Regions from separate parts of the Homo sapiens genome. Here all the other regions are linked to region 1. The links come from fine-mapping of genetic effects on gene expression. A gene starts in region 1. Each other region holds a variant in brackets. All regions are shown on one strand. Distances are from middle to middle.

Region 1 (4,000 bases):
CAAAAGGAAAGTAATCAATTTGACTTTCAGTTAATTAATCACAATTTCAAAAAAAAAAACAAAAGGACAGACTCAACGTATTTTCCCTACACCCAAATTAATTACATCTATTCTACAGCTACTTCTGAGACTCTCCTACATACTCTTCCATGTGTGGGGATACAGGAGTGAACAAAACATTGTATGTGATTCCTAAGGTCAAGAACTCAACGTTTTTTCAATGCCACAATCAAATTCTGTCTCATTTAAATAAAACTGTAAAGAATGCCAATGTCTATTCATTCCTTGCTAATAATATACCAACTGTTTATTAAATTCCATCATATATAAAAAAGCGATTAAGCAAAGAAAGTCACTGCAATCGTCTTTACAGCATACGATTAACTTCAAAAGGAGTGTTTTACATGTTGCTGTATTTGAAGGAAAGTATTATTAATCTCTGGAAGATAAAGCACACTGGGGAAAGCAAAGAAATTCTGAAAATAAAAAACTGCAATCCTGAATATTAGTCTCCTTTCTCAAATCCAGTGATGCTGTTTTGGCAAATGGATCAAGCCATTATTTATCCAGCAACATGAACGGGGTAATTGTTCCTTCTTAGCTCCATCAGTCATATAAAAGAGTATTTAGTGTTCTAAAAAAAAAAAAAAAAAAAGAAGTATGCTCCTTAAACAATAGATTACAATGTCTATGTCAAAGTACTCGTTTATCAAATAAACCCTTATTATCTTAGACTTTTATATTTACATCCTGCCAGTCTTAGTGCCACAAGAATGCCATCGAGTTCCTCAGCAACGTGTCTTCCACCAAAATCTCAAATGTATTTTAAAATATATTTTTATGAAGTTGACTTTTAACACATTTCCAACCTAGTAACTACTCTTTAAGGAAAAAAAAAAACCACCAAATATTGGGAATGTCTGAAGAAACATGACATCTGTCTAGGAAGTGATGTAGTCTGTTTAAACTGAAAAAAAAAAAAAAACAAAAATGCACTGCCCCCTTTCAAAGTTAGTCCGGGAATTGAGTTTAGAATCCTTTAAAGGAAAAGAGGGATATCATGTACTGAACTTGTCTGGTGGGGTCTGAGACACTAAAACTGAGCGGCCTCAAGGGCCCGAGAAAGTTACAGGGCTCCGAGAGCTGCAACAGCAGCAGGTAGAGCTGCGGCCGGGAACCGCGGCCCTGGCCTGGCGGGTGCGAGCGGCGGGAGCGACTGGCGCCCCAAAGCCTGTCATGCAACATCCCCTTTGCCACTGGGGCGGAACGCACGCTCTCTAGTAATTTAACACCCCTCCTTTCAAACTGGAGGCCGGGGAACAAGTTCTAATAAATGTAAAATCGAATTCTACCTACGCTGAATATCTGGATTTTCAAACAACCCTTGGGACCATGCCAGCCCGGGCCCGGGGCCCAGTCCAGGCAGCGGGAGCCCACCGTCCCCAGGGCGCTGGGGGTCCGACACCGGCGCTGAAGGCAGACTCCGCGCCCCGAGGAAAGGAGAATCCCGCGGCGGCGAAGGTCGACTTTGGCCCGGCCAGGCACGTTCGGGCCGCGGCTCAGCCACGACTCGGGCAGGGCCTCGCGGCCCCTACCAGCCCCGGGAGGAGCCTGGCCGGCCGGGCCGTTACCACAGTGGCGCCTCGGCCAGCTGGGCGCGAGCGGAGGCGCGCCAAGCCCTGGCGGCGGCGCCACGGCCGGGCAGCACGGGCCCCGCAACTTCGCGCCGCCACCTTAGCGTCTCCGGAGGAACCGGGAGCGGGGAGTGGGGGAAGGGAGGGCGCCGCGCCTTACCCGGAGAGCGGGCGGCTTCTGCCCGCCGGCGTGTGGCTGGGGCGCTGCGCGGCGGCGCGGCTGCGACAGGGAGGGAGAAGCGGTGGTGCGAGCGCTGGCCCGCGGGAGACGAGAGGCGCCGCCGCCACCGCAGACAGCTCCGCAATATGGCCGCTCGGCGCCTCCGCGGGAAAAGGCGGGGCTGCCCGGCGCCCCCCCGCCTCCCCCTGCCGGCCGGCCGTCCTCGCGCCGCGGACTGAGCGCCAACGCCGCCGCTGGGGGCCGCCCCCGCCCCGCCCCTCCCGCAGGCTCGCAGCCGCAGGCCTGGCTCCGGGCGTGGCCGGGGGTCGCGGTCTGGGGCCGGCCAACGCGAGGTGGGTGGCTGCGGGCTCGGGAGCGCCCAGGGAAATAGGGCGAATGCGCCGGAGGGTCGAGCCCTTCCAGAGAGCGCTGGGCTCCAGCTAAACCTGCGGTCGAGGGAAGCGGAGCCGCCCAGCCCAAAGCTCGGAGTGTGCCCGCCGCCTCCCCAACGAGTGGAAACTTGAAACTCCCGCTGGTGCCAGCAAACTCACTGAGGGCGTTGCCGTCGCCCCCAGAGGAGGAATTCTTCCCAGAGGGAGCCGGGGACCAAATGAAGCGTGAGACTTGGCTGTTAGGTTTGAAGATCCTGGACTGGGAAGGAGAAAAGGGCCTACCTGAGCGGAATTTAGATTTGCAACAAAGAACGTTTACATTATTTTGGCAGGTTTTAGCCAACTAGAAAAACTTAATTTTTCAGCGACAATTTTCAAACTTCACCAAAACCTCAATGGATAAGACCCCAAATCAGGAGTGCAAATTTTAATCCAAGCAAGGATGTGTGATAATTTTTTATTACCAACGACATGCTTTGGCAGTTGGAAGGAGTTGGTTAGCAAGAAAAAGTTGGAAGTAGGGCCCCAAAGAGCCGCCAAACCTACATAATTCTAGATTTAGAGAAAGTTAGGCATTCGATCTTAAGACTAAGTCTAGCCCACTCACTTTAGTTAGTGGCTGGGATGAGACAGGAAGCTCCTGACTTCTGGATCAGTCTTCTGTCATCTAATCCATGCTGAGTCCCCTCAGTATTGTCTGCTGGGATGATTCAGGGAGCAAAACTTGCTATGAGTATACAAACAGCAAGCGCACAAAATCAGATTCGCCTGGCTTGCCCTGTTTGCAATACTTTTTTTAGCTTATCTTTTGTGAACAAACTTTAGATTCAAATAACAAAACGCCTGAGTATACTTACTTTTATAGGACAAATAACTCCTATACTTCCTGCCTTAGCATTTACCTTAGGTGAGACAGTAGCTTTTCCAGGAAATATCTGCAAATCACTTTCACTAGCCTGCCTCTTCAGTGAGTTTCCACTATTGCCCTTTGAGACCTCTCCGAACAATTAAAAGCCCCCAAGAGACTCAAGGGTTAAACTCAAGGGCCTTTAGATAGCAAATTCCTCAAGGATGGGAACCAGGTGTGTGACTTGCGACCAAATAGGTTCTTGTGGTTCTTAGGGACCACCAAAAGATCACTCCTTACCTCTCCCTAGGGTGCAAGAATTATCCTGGTTATTGTTCAGCCTACCACATCAGGTTGCAGGCATAGTCAAAGTATTACGTAATACTTCCCATGAAGTAGGTAAGAAAAAAAAGTATTATGTAAATTCCTACATAGTACACTAATCAAATGAAATTATATAACACACTTTTGCAACTGAAAGTGAAGGATTCACTGTTGTTGGTCAGGTGCCAGACACTGGTGTGAAATTCTTTTACATGACTGTCTCTTTTAATGGTTACAAAAACCCTCTGGGATAAATACTATTATTGACCCTTTAAAAAAAATCGATGAATAAGACAGCTTAAAAAGAGGTAAGTAATTTCCCCAATGTAACAAAACTAGGAAGTGGCAGAGCAGTGACCAAACCCAAATATATGTTTGACTCCAAAAGCCTTGATTTTATCCTATCTTCTGCAACAGCAAACAGACCAAAAATTGCAACATTTTAGTTGGGTATCCTATTAGTAAATATTTAAGTGAAAGATAACAGTCAAGGCTGGTGAGATAAAAAGGGTACTCTCAGACATGGTGAGTGGGAGTGTAAACTGAAATAATCTCTTTATAAAGCTATTTGGCACTGTGATTCAACCCCTAAGAACTTTCATGGCAGGGCATGGTGGCTCATGCCTGTAATCCCCGCACTTCC
Region 2 (4,352 bases), 68 kb after region 1:
TAATTATTTTCCCCTGCTTGGATTATCTTTTTCCTTTGGGTCAGTTGTTTTGTTTTCTAAAGCTTTCACTTTTGTATTGTTTTTCCTGAGAAGTGTGGTGTTCTCTATTGTCTATTCATTTGAATGAATTCAGAACCAAACAAATGCCTTAATTTAGCACAACCAGCTTGTGTGGGTTTCCTCTTCAATTGTTTAGGTTTGTTTCTCCAGGAAGGTTTTCCCTGAATAGAATGACTGGCACGAGTTCTGTGTAAGTAGGCAGGACTTTTGGACAGGAAGGCTTCCCTGTAGGTTTCCTGTGGGCAGAGTAGGCAAGAAGGCTGGGGAACCTGAGCTTCCCCAGGAGGAGGTAGAGACGCATTTTGAGTTTGATTGTTTCCCCTCTGAGTTTATAAATGTAGAGATTCAAAGTTTCTTCAGTTATCTCCTTTTAAGCTACAAGACCCTCCGGAGGAACACTCTCTCTGCCCTTTCTTTCTAAAAAGCAGTGCCCTGGCTTGTAGCCCGAGGCCAAAAGTCTCAGCTGCCTAGCTTTGTTTACACAGGTCACAGGAAAGGGGCCCAGCTGTCCCAAGGCACTGAATCCAGTTCTTTAATGAGGCCACTGTTGATTGCCCGCACGGCCCATCATTGTATTGTTGACCAAGTGAGGAGTTTCTCTGGGCCCCCTTGGGAAGACACATACTTATTTCCTGTGCCCTGGCCTGCAGTTTCTCATCAGTTCATCCATCTGCTTTGTATCTTTTAGAAATTTCCCAAAACTCTTGTGTGCTGATGACACTCTTTCTTGTTTCCTATTGCTGTTATTCACTCATTTTCTTTAAAGAATATTTTCTGTCACTTTTATGGGAATGTGGAAGATAGAAGAGGTAAATACATGTGCTCATCCACCATTTTGTGTACAAGCGCACACACACAGTACACATACATGCACAAGCACACGCACACACACACGCAATACACATACACGTGAAAAGCAAATACAGTAATGCATCCAGTTAATCCTTTGGGGGAAAGGCAGATTCCTATTAATATAAATTATCAGAATACAATCACTAGATCTCTCAGTTGGTTCCAATGTTTTGCCCAGGTTATGCTTATTTTAAAAATTAATACTCAGCAATGTGTCAGAAATTACAGCTATGAAGTCTGAAAGTAAAAAAAATTACAGTGTCATTTTAGAATTATTTTACAAAATTATCTGTACCTGAAAAGGAAGACATGGTCACTGTTGCTAGTGTCTTCCCAGTCCCTTTACCTTGGGATTTTGACTTGAGTACCTCGGTTCCTCAGTGAATATGAGGGGCAGCTTGCCAAGGCATTGTTTTAGGCACAATTTTGTAAGAAGTGCTGCTGTTCAACTCTTATATCCTCTGGACACATAAATGCCATTTGGAGTCTCCTAATTCAAATTCCCATCCTTACAAATTCCTTAAAGAAGTGTTTAACTTAAGACAAAAACAACCACAGGCCAGGTGTGGTGGCTCACGCCTGAAATCCCAGCATTTTGGAAGGCCAAGCCATGAGGATTGCTTGAGTCCAGGAGTTTAAGACCAGCCTAGGCAACATAGTGAGATCCCATCTCTAAAAAAAAAAAAAAAAAAACCCAAAATTAGCCAGGTGTGGTAGTGCATGGCTGCTGCAGTCCCAGCTACTCAGGAGGCTGAGGTGGGAGGATTTTTGAGCCCAGGAGGTCAAGGCTGCAGTGAGCCAAGATGGCGACACTGCACACTGGCCTGGGCAACAGAGCGAGACCTTGTCTCAAAAAGGAAAAAAACAAAAACAAAAACAAAACAAACAAGAACAAAAAAACACAAACATTTTGATTGTAAGAAACAGAACCCAAAATGTGAAATGAGCAAGGTGCTCAAAGCTAGGAAATCTGAGGCCAGATCTGAGTTCTACTACTCACTAAC[C/CT]TGTGGTCTTGGGAAAAGGATTTACGTTTTCTAAACCTCCATTTTCTGAATTTTAAATTGAAGATAATAATAGTACCTACTTCATAGGATGGTTTTGAATATTAAGATAGTATACATAAGTCCCTTAGCACATTACCTGACACATAGTATGGGCCTCATTAGATATTAGCATTATCATTAATATCTGCAAATAATTCATATTTATATTACAGAGCAGTTATGGAATAAATATTCAATTCCTTCTTATTTTTATATTCATAAAATATAGAGAAATATTCCTTACTTCCTAGTTCCACCTGGATAGTATTATTTTGGCTTCTTTTTTTTTTTTTTTTTTTTTTTGAAATGGAATCTCCCTCTGTCGTCCAGGCTGGAGTGCAGTGGCACAATCTCGGCTCACTACAAGCTCTGCCTCCTGGGTTCACGCCGTTCTCCTGCCTCAGCCTCCCAAGTAGCTGGGACTACAGGCGCCCGCCACCACTCCTGGCTAATTTTTTTGTATTTTTAGTAGAGACGGGGTTTCACGGTGTTAACCAGGATGGTCTCAATCTCCTGCCCTCGTGATCCGCCGTCTCGGCCTCCCAGAGTGCTGGGATTACAGGCGTTCTGTTTTTTTACCCGGCCTGTTCTTTTTTTTTAGATAGTAAAATACACAAGACATAAAATTTACCATGTTAACTCTTTTTAAGTGTACAGTTCAGTGACATTAAAAATACTTTTGGGCCGGGCACAGGGTCTTGCTCTGCTGCCCAGGCTGGAGTGCAGTGGTGTGATCATGGCTCATTGCAGTCCTGACTTCCCAGGCTCAAGTGATCCTCCCACCTCAGCCTCCCAAATACCTGGGACTACAGACACATGCCACCACGCCTGGCTAATTTTTTGTAGAGATGGAGTTTCGCCATGTTGCCTGGGTTGGTCTCAAACTCCTGGTCTCAAGTGATCCACCTATCTTGCCCTCTCAAAGTGCTGGGATTAAAGGTGTGTCATTCTTTTTTAAGACTGAAGAATATTCCACTGCATGTGTACACCATGTTTTGTTTATCCACTTATCTGTCCATAGGCACTTGGGGTGCTTCAGCTCTTGGCCGTTATGAATAAGGCTGTTATGATACAGGTGTATAAATATTTGGTCAAGTCCCTGCTTCTTTTTTTCTTTTTTTTTTGAGACGGAGTCTCGCTCTGTTGCCCAGGCTGGAGTTCAGTGGCACGATCTCAGCTCACTGCAACCTCCGCCTCCCCAGCTCACACCATTTTCCTGCCTCAGCCTCCCGAGTAGCTGGGACTACAGGCTCCCACCACCAGGCCCGGCTAATTTTTTGTATTTTTTAGTAGAGACAGGGTTTCACCGAGTTGGCCAGGATGATCTCAATCTTCTGACCTCATGATCCACCCGCTTTGGCCTCCCAAAGTGCTGGGATTACAGGCGTGAGCCACCGTGCCCGGCCCCTGTTTCCATTTTTTGGGGTGTACACCCAGAGGGGGAATTGTTGCATCACAGGGCACTGGCATTTAAATTCTCACTCTTCTCATTTGGTGTCTCACACCAGTTTGCATTCCTGTTTGAGCGAATTTGTAAATCACATACCATATTTGTTTTCTTCTCTGTTTCACAGATAAATATGCTGAGGCATGTTTTCAAGGAGGGGAGAGAGATTCCTTTTCCTCAGCCGGGCACAGAGCCAACCTGAAGTGTAGCACTGTGGTGACCTGGCGGGATCTGCTCTCCAGTCACTCCCGAGGGCCCTTCTGGGGACAAGGAGACTTTTCTGTGCGGCCTGTTGATTTGAGTAGGTATAGCCTTTCTGCTAGCCACCAGACACAGCTCTATAAGAATTTACTCTCAACTATCCCATGAATAAGAAAACACTTAGGGAGGCTTTTACCTATCCATGAATAGTTACTTCTGTTCAACAGTCCTACAAATGTTTTCGAATGCCTGAAGTGTGCCAGACATGTACTAGGCAACAGGGTTAGAAAAGTGTGGGAAGCTTGGTCCCTGGCCTGGAGAACTTTAGTTCAGTGGGGAGCTTACAGATATTCCCCCCATACCTTTCAGAGCATGGATGTTTACAAAGTTGTCAAAGAGTATTTTGGTGTGCTTTGGCAATGGTGGATCTAGTGTTGTGGGCCTTCTAAAAATATGAAATGATGAATTCACAATTAGTTATAAGGTTTTGAAAGGGATTAATACAAATGGGTGGGGTGGGGTGGATGGGAGGAAGGTCCTGAAATAGTTTTATTAACTTGGTAGTAAATAATTTCTGGATTTGAGGAGTATTAAAAGGATCCTTCACTCCCAAACCTCTCCCTCGATAGTCATATAATGAGATGCCTAAAGTTTCTGTCATTATTTTCATTCCACAGTTAAGAAATCAAAGGGGTTGGTGATATTAGAAATACTTGAGAGCCAGATAAGACTGAAGCCCATACCACCTT
Region 3 (4,352 bases), 57 kb before region 1:
ACATATATACCTCTTTGTTTTCTTGAGACAGGGTCTCGCTCTGTTGCCCAGGCTGAAGTGCAGAAGCTCACTGCAGCCTCGAACTCATGGGCTCGAGCAATCCTCCCGCCTCAGCCTCCCAAGTAGCTAGGACTACAGGCGCTATACCTCGTTTCCAACTTGGCAAAAGCCTAATAATTTTTAAAGAGAAATGAAAATCTTCTGCAATTCAAGTTATGTAAAAAGGCTACAAGCACGTAACTATTTTATTTTTAAAAAATAATCTCTCCATCTGAAGTTTTGACCTCAGTAAACAAATTGCCATGTTTCAGAAATCTATAATACATTTCAAAACTTCCATTAAGGTTTTACTTATCTAAACTAATAAGTAAATCCAAGAAATTAAGATTGAAAACAGTATTTACTGACCCCAAAATAGGAATTTTGATGTGATTATATGAATTATTGAAAAATGTGAGTTATTGGTATATATTCATTCCTAAAGCATGAAGATAAGCAATATTGGGAGATAAATAACATGAATTTTAATCCTTAGGTGCATAGATCACTAAATCAACTCTTTTCTTATTCCAATGAGTTGAACAGGAAAGGAAAATAAATTTTTAAGAGAGTTTAACAGTACTAACTTTAAATATTATTTTGACAATTATTTAAGCCCTGTGACAGAAGACAATAGAATGCCACCTAGTAAGACAGTACAAGGTCCTACAAAGAATTATTTTCCCTTACTGTATACTAAGAAAATCTATATGTCATGAAATTTGAAAGCTAACTGTAACTTACAAGCTTTTACTTACTGTTCTTAATTTTCTTGGTCTTGATCAGAACTAGTTGAGTAATTGCAGTTAAGACTTGGAAGGTTTTAGGCCAGGTGTTGTGGCTCATGCCTGTAATCCCAGCACTTTGGGTGACTGAGGTGGGTGGATCATTTGAGGTCAGGAGTTTGAGACCAGACTGGCCAACCTGGTGAAATCCCGACTCTACTAAAAATACAAAAATTAGCCAGGCATGGTGATGGGCGCCTGTAATCTCAGCTACTTGGGGAGGCTGAGGCAGAAGAATCTCTTGAACCCAGGAGGCGGAGGCTGCAGTGAGCCAAGATTGCACCACTGCACTCCAGCCTGGGCGACGGAGCAAGACTCTGTCTCAAAAAAAAAAAAAAAAAACAAAAAAAACACTTGGAAGGTTTTGAGAGGGTTGGAGAAGAATGACTCTTTGGTTAGGCTTTGGTTAGGCTCACGCCTGTAATCCCAGCACTTTCGAAGGGAAAGGTGGGAAGACCGCTTGAGGCCAGGAGTTTGAGACCAGTCTGGTCAACAGAGTGAGACATCATCTCTTCTTAAAAACTAAAATTAAAAAAAAAAATCAGTAGCTATTTATATATAACAACAGTAAACAATCTGAAAAAGAAACCAAGAAAGCAATTCCATTTACCATAGCCAAAAAAAAAAAGTAAAACACCTAGGAATCAATCTAACCAAAGAAGTGAAAGAAGGACATTGGTCTAGGCAAAGATTTTTTGTGTAAGACCTCAAAGGCACAGGCAAAGAGAGATAATGGGTGTTACATCAAGCTAAAAAGCTCTATACAGCAAAAGAAACAACCAACAAAGTGAAGAGATAAACAAAGAATAGAAGAAAGTGTCTACAAACTGTCTATCTAAAAAAGGACGAAAAACCAGAATATATAAAGAGCTCAAACT[C/T]GATAGCAGAAAACCAAATAATCTCGTTTACAAATGGGCAAAACATCTGAACTGACATTTCTCAAAAGACGTACAAATGGCCAAAAGCTATATGAAAAAAATGTTCATCACTATAATCACAGAAATATAAATCAAAACCACAATGAGATATCATCTCACCCCAGTCAAAATGGCTTGTATCAAAAAGACAGGCAAGGCTGGGCAAGGTGGCTCACGCCTGTAAATCCCAGGACTTTGGGATTTACAAAAATTAGCTGGGCATGGTGGCACATGTAATCCCAGTTACTTGGGTGGCAGAGGCTAAGAATCACTTGAACCCGGGAGGTGGAGGTTGCCTGGGTGATAGAGGAAGACTCTGTTTTTAAAAAAAAAAAAAAAAAAGGCAGTAACAGATGCTGGCGGGGATGTAGAGAAAAGGAACACTCATACACTGTTGGTGGGAATGCAAATTAGTAAGGCCGCTATGTAGAACAATATAGAGTCCTCAAAAAACTAAAACTACGGAATTACCATAGTATCCAGCAATATCCAAAACATAGTATCCAGCAATATCCAGCAATAGTATCCAGCAATATCCAGCAATATCCAAAACAAAGGAAATCAATATATTGGAGATAGTTGTACTCCTACGTTTATTGCAGCACTATTCACAATGGCCAAAACATGAAGTCAACCTAAGTGCTTAAAGAAAATGTGGTATACATACACTATGGAATATTATTCAGCCATAAAAATAAATGAAATCCTGTCATTTGCAGCAATATGGATGGAACTGGAAGCCATCACGTTAAGTGAAATAAACCAAGCACAGAAAGACAACTATTGCATGTTTTCACTCATATGTCAGAGCTAAATCTCATAAAGATAAATAAACTGGTGGTTATCAAAGGCCAGGAAGTGGGTGGGGGGAGTTGAAGGGAGGAGAAAAAGAATAGAAATGTATTTATTACTACTGAACTGTATACTTAAAAACGGTAAAAATAGGCCGGGCGCGGTGGCTCACGCCTGTAATCCCAGCACTTTGGGAGGCCGAGGCGGGCGGATCACGAGGTCAGGAGATCGAGACCATCCTGGCTAACACGGTGAAACCCCGTCTCTACTAAAAATACAAAAAAAATTAGCCGGGCGTGGTAGCGGGCGCCTGTAGTCCCAGCTACTCGGGAGGCTGAGGCAGGAGAATGGCGTGAACCCGGGAGGCGGAGCTTGCAGTGAGCCGAGATGGCGCCACTGCACTCCAGCCTGGGCGACAGAGCAAGACTCCGTCTCAAAAAAAAAAAAAAAAACGGTAAAAATGGCCAGGCACGGTGGTTCATGCCTGTACTCCCAGCACTTTTGGGAGGCCGAGGTGGGCAGATCACCTCAGGTCAGGAGTTCGAGACCAGCCTGGCCAACATGGCAAAACTGCATATCTACTAAAAATACAAAAAATTAGCTGGGTGTGGTGGCGGGCGCCTGTAACCTCAGCTACTCAGGAGGCTGAGGCAGGAGAATCACTTAAACCCAGGAGGCGGAGGTTGCAGTGAGCCGAGATCACACCACTGCACTCCAGCCTGGGCGACAGAGTGAGACTCTGTCTCCAAAAAAAAAAAAAAAAAAAGGGGCGGGGGGGCAAAGATGTGTACATTCTGTATTATATGTGTATATTTTACCTCAATAAAAAATAAATAATATAAAAATTCTATGTGGCTATTTGGCTATAAAGACAAAATGTATACGGCACTGGATGTTACCATAGCGATATTCTACGATTACTCATTTTAGAATCTGCCTTCTAAAATTCAGATAATCAAGCTGGCCTATCAAACTTTTCTTTCTTTCTTTTTCTTTTTTTTATTTGAGATGGAGTCTCACTCTGTTGCCCAGGCTGGAGTGCAGTGGCACGATCTCAGCTCACTGCAACCTCTGCCTCCTGGGTTTAAGCAATTCTCCTGCCTCAGCCTCCGGAGTAGCTGGGATTACAGACGTGTGTCACCACACCCAGCTAATTTTTTTATTTTTAGTAGAGATGGGGTTTCACAAGGTTTGCCAGGCTGGTCTCGAACTCCCGACCTCAGGTGATCCACCCGCCTTGGCCTCCCAAAGTGCTGGGATTACAGGTGTGAGCTATTGCACCCAGCCTCAAACTTTAATAATTAATTCTTTTCATCTGATTGACTGATATATAAAACAACACCCACAAAGCTCATGGTTTTATCTTCCATCTAAACAAGCAAACAAATAACTAAAGAATTGAAAGTAGGGTCTCAAACCAATACCTGAATATCCATGTTCATAACAGTATTATTCACAATAACTAAAACACAAAAGCAACCTGAGTGCCCATCAACAGATAAGCAAAATGTGGTATACAAATAGAATATCATTCAGCCTTAAAGGAAGGCAATTCTGACATATGCTACAACGTGGATGAACCTTGAGGGCATTATGTTAAGTGAAATAAGCCAGTCACAAAAAGACAAATACTGTATGATACCACTTATACAGGTAGAATACTCAAAATCACAAAGACAAAAAGTAGAATGATGGTTGCCAGGGGTTGTGGGGAGGGGGGAAATGGGGATTGTTTAATGGGTGCAGAGTTTTAGTTTTACAAGATGAAAATAATTATGTAGCTGGATAGTGGTGATGGCTGCACAACATTCCCAATATA

Direction of the effects. Positions count from the first base shown, and alleles are read on the strand shown. Sizes are in standard deviations (SD) of each study's normalised expression. Not every link is listed here.
With allele C in place of T in region 3, the expression in fibroblasts of the gene that starts at base 1,942 in region 1 is lower (small effect, 0.12 SD a copy in GTEx).

The links. PIP is the estimated chance that this variant, and not a neighbour inherited with it, causes the effect.
Region 2: its variant is the best candidate, but not a certain one, in a credible set for the expression of RDX in lung (TOPMed, PIP 0.63).
Region 3: its variant is the best candidate, but not a certain one, in a credible set for the expression of RDX in fibroblasts (GTEx, PIP 0.78).

The regions. Positions count from the first base shown.
Region 1 is chr11:110,294,673-110,298,672 of GRCh38, forward strand. It overlaps RDX (radixin), which reads right to left and starts at 1,942. Exons shown (of 14, transcript NM_002906.4): 1 at 1,795-1,942. RefSeq lists an enhancer at 1,039-1,911 and silencers at 1,125-1,184, 1,315-1,414, 1,425-1,474, 1,525-2,324.
Region 2 is chr11:110,362,832-110,367,183 of GRCh38, forward strand. LINC02732 (long intergenic non-protein coding RNA 2732) reads left to right here. Exons shown (of 4, transcript NR_135100.2): 2 at 3,530-3,703. Among named protein-coding and RNA genes, the nearest start is that of LINC02732, 9.9 kb to the left of the region's middle. RefSeq lists a silencer at 73-367 and an enhancer at 427-948. The variant C/CT (reference allele first, on the strand shown) is at 1,917.
Region 3 is chr11:110,237,777-110,242,128 of GRCh38, forward strand. All of the region lies in intron 10 of RDX (radixin), which reads right to left. Among named protein-coding and RNA genes, the nearest start is that of RDX, 57 kb to the right of the region's middle. The variant C/T (reference allele first, on the strand shown) is at 1,703.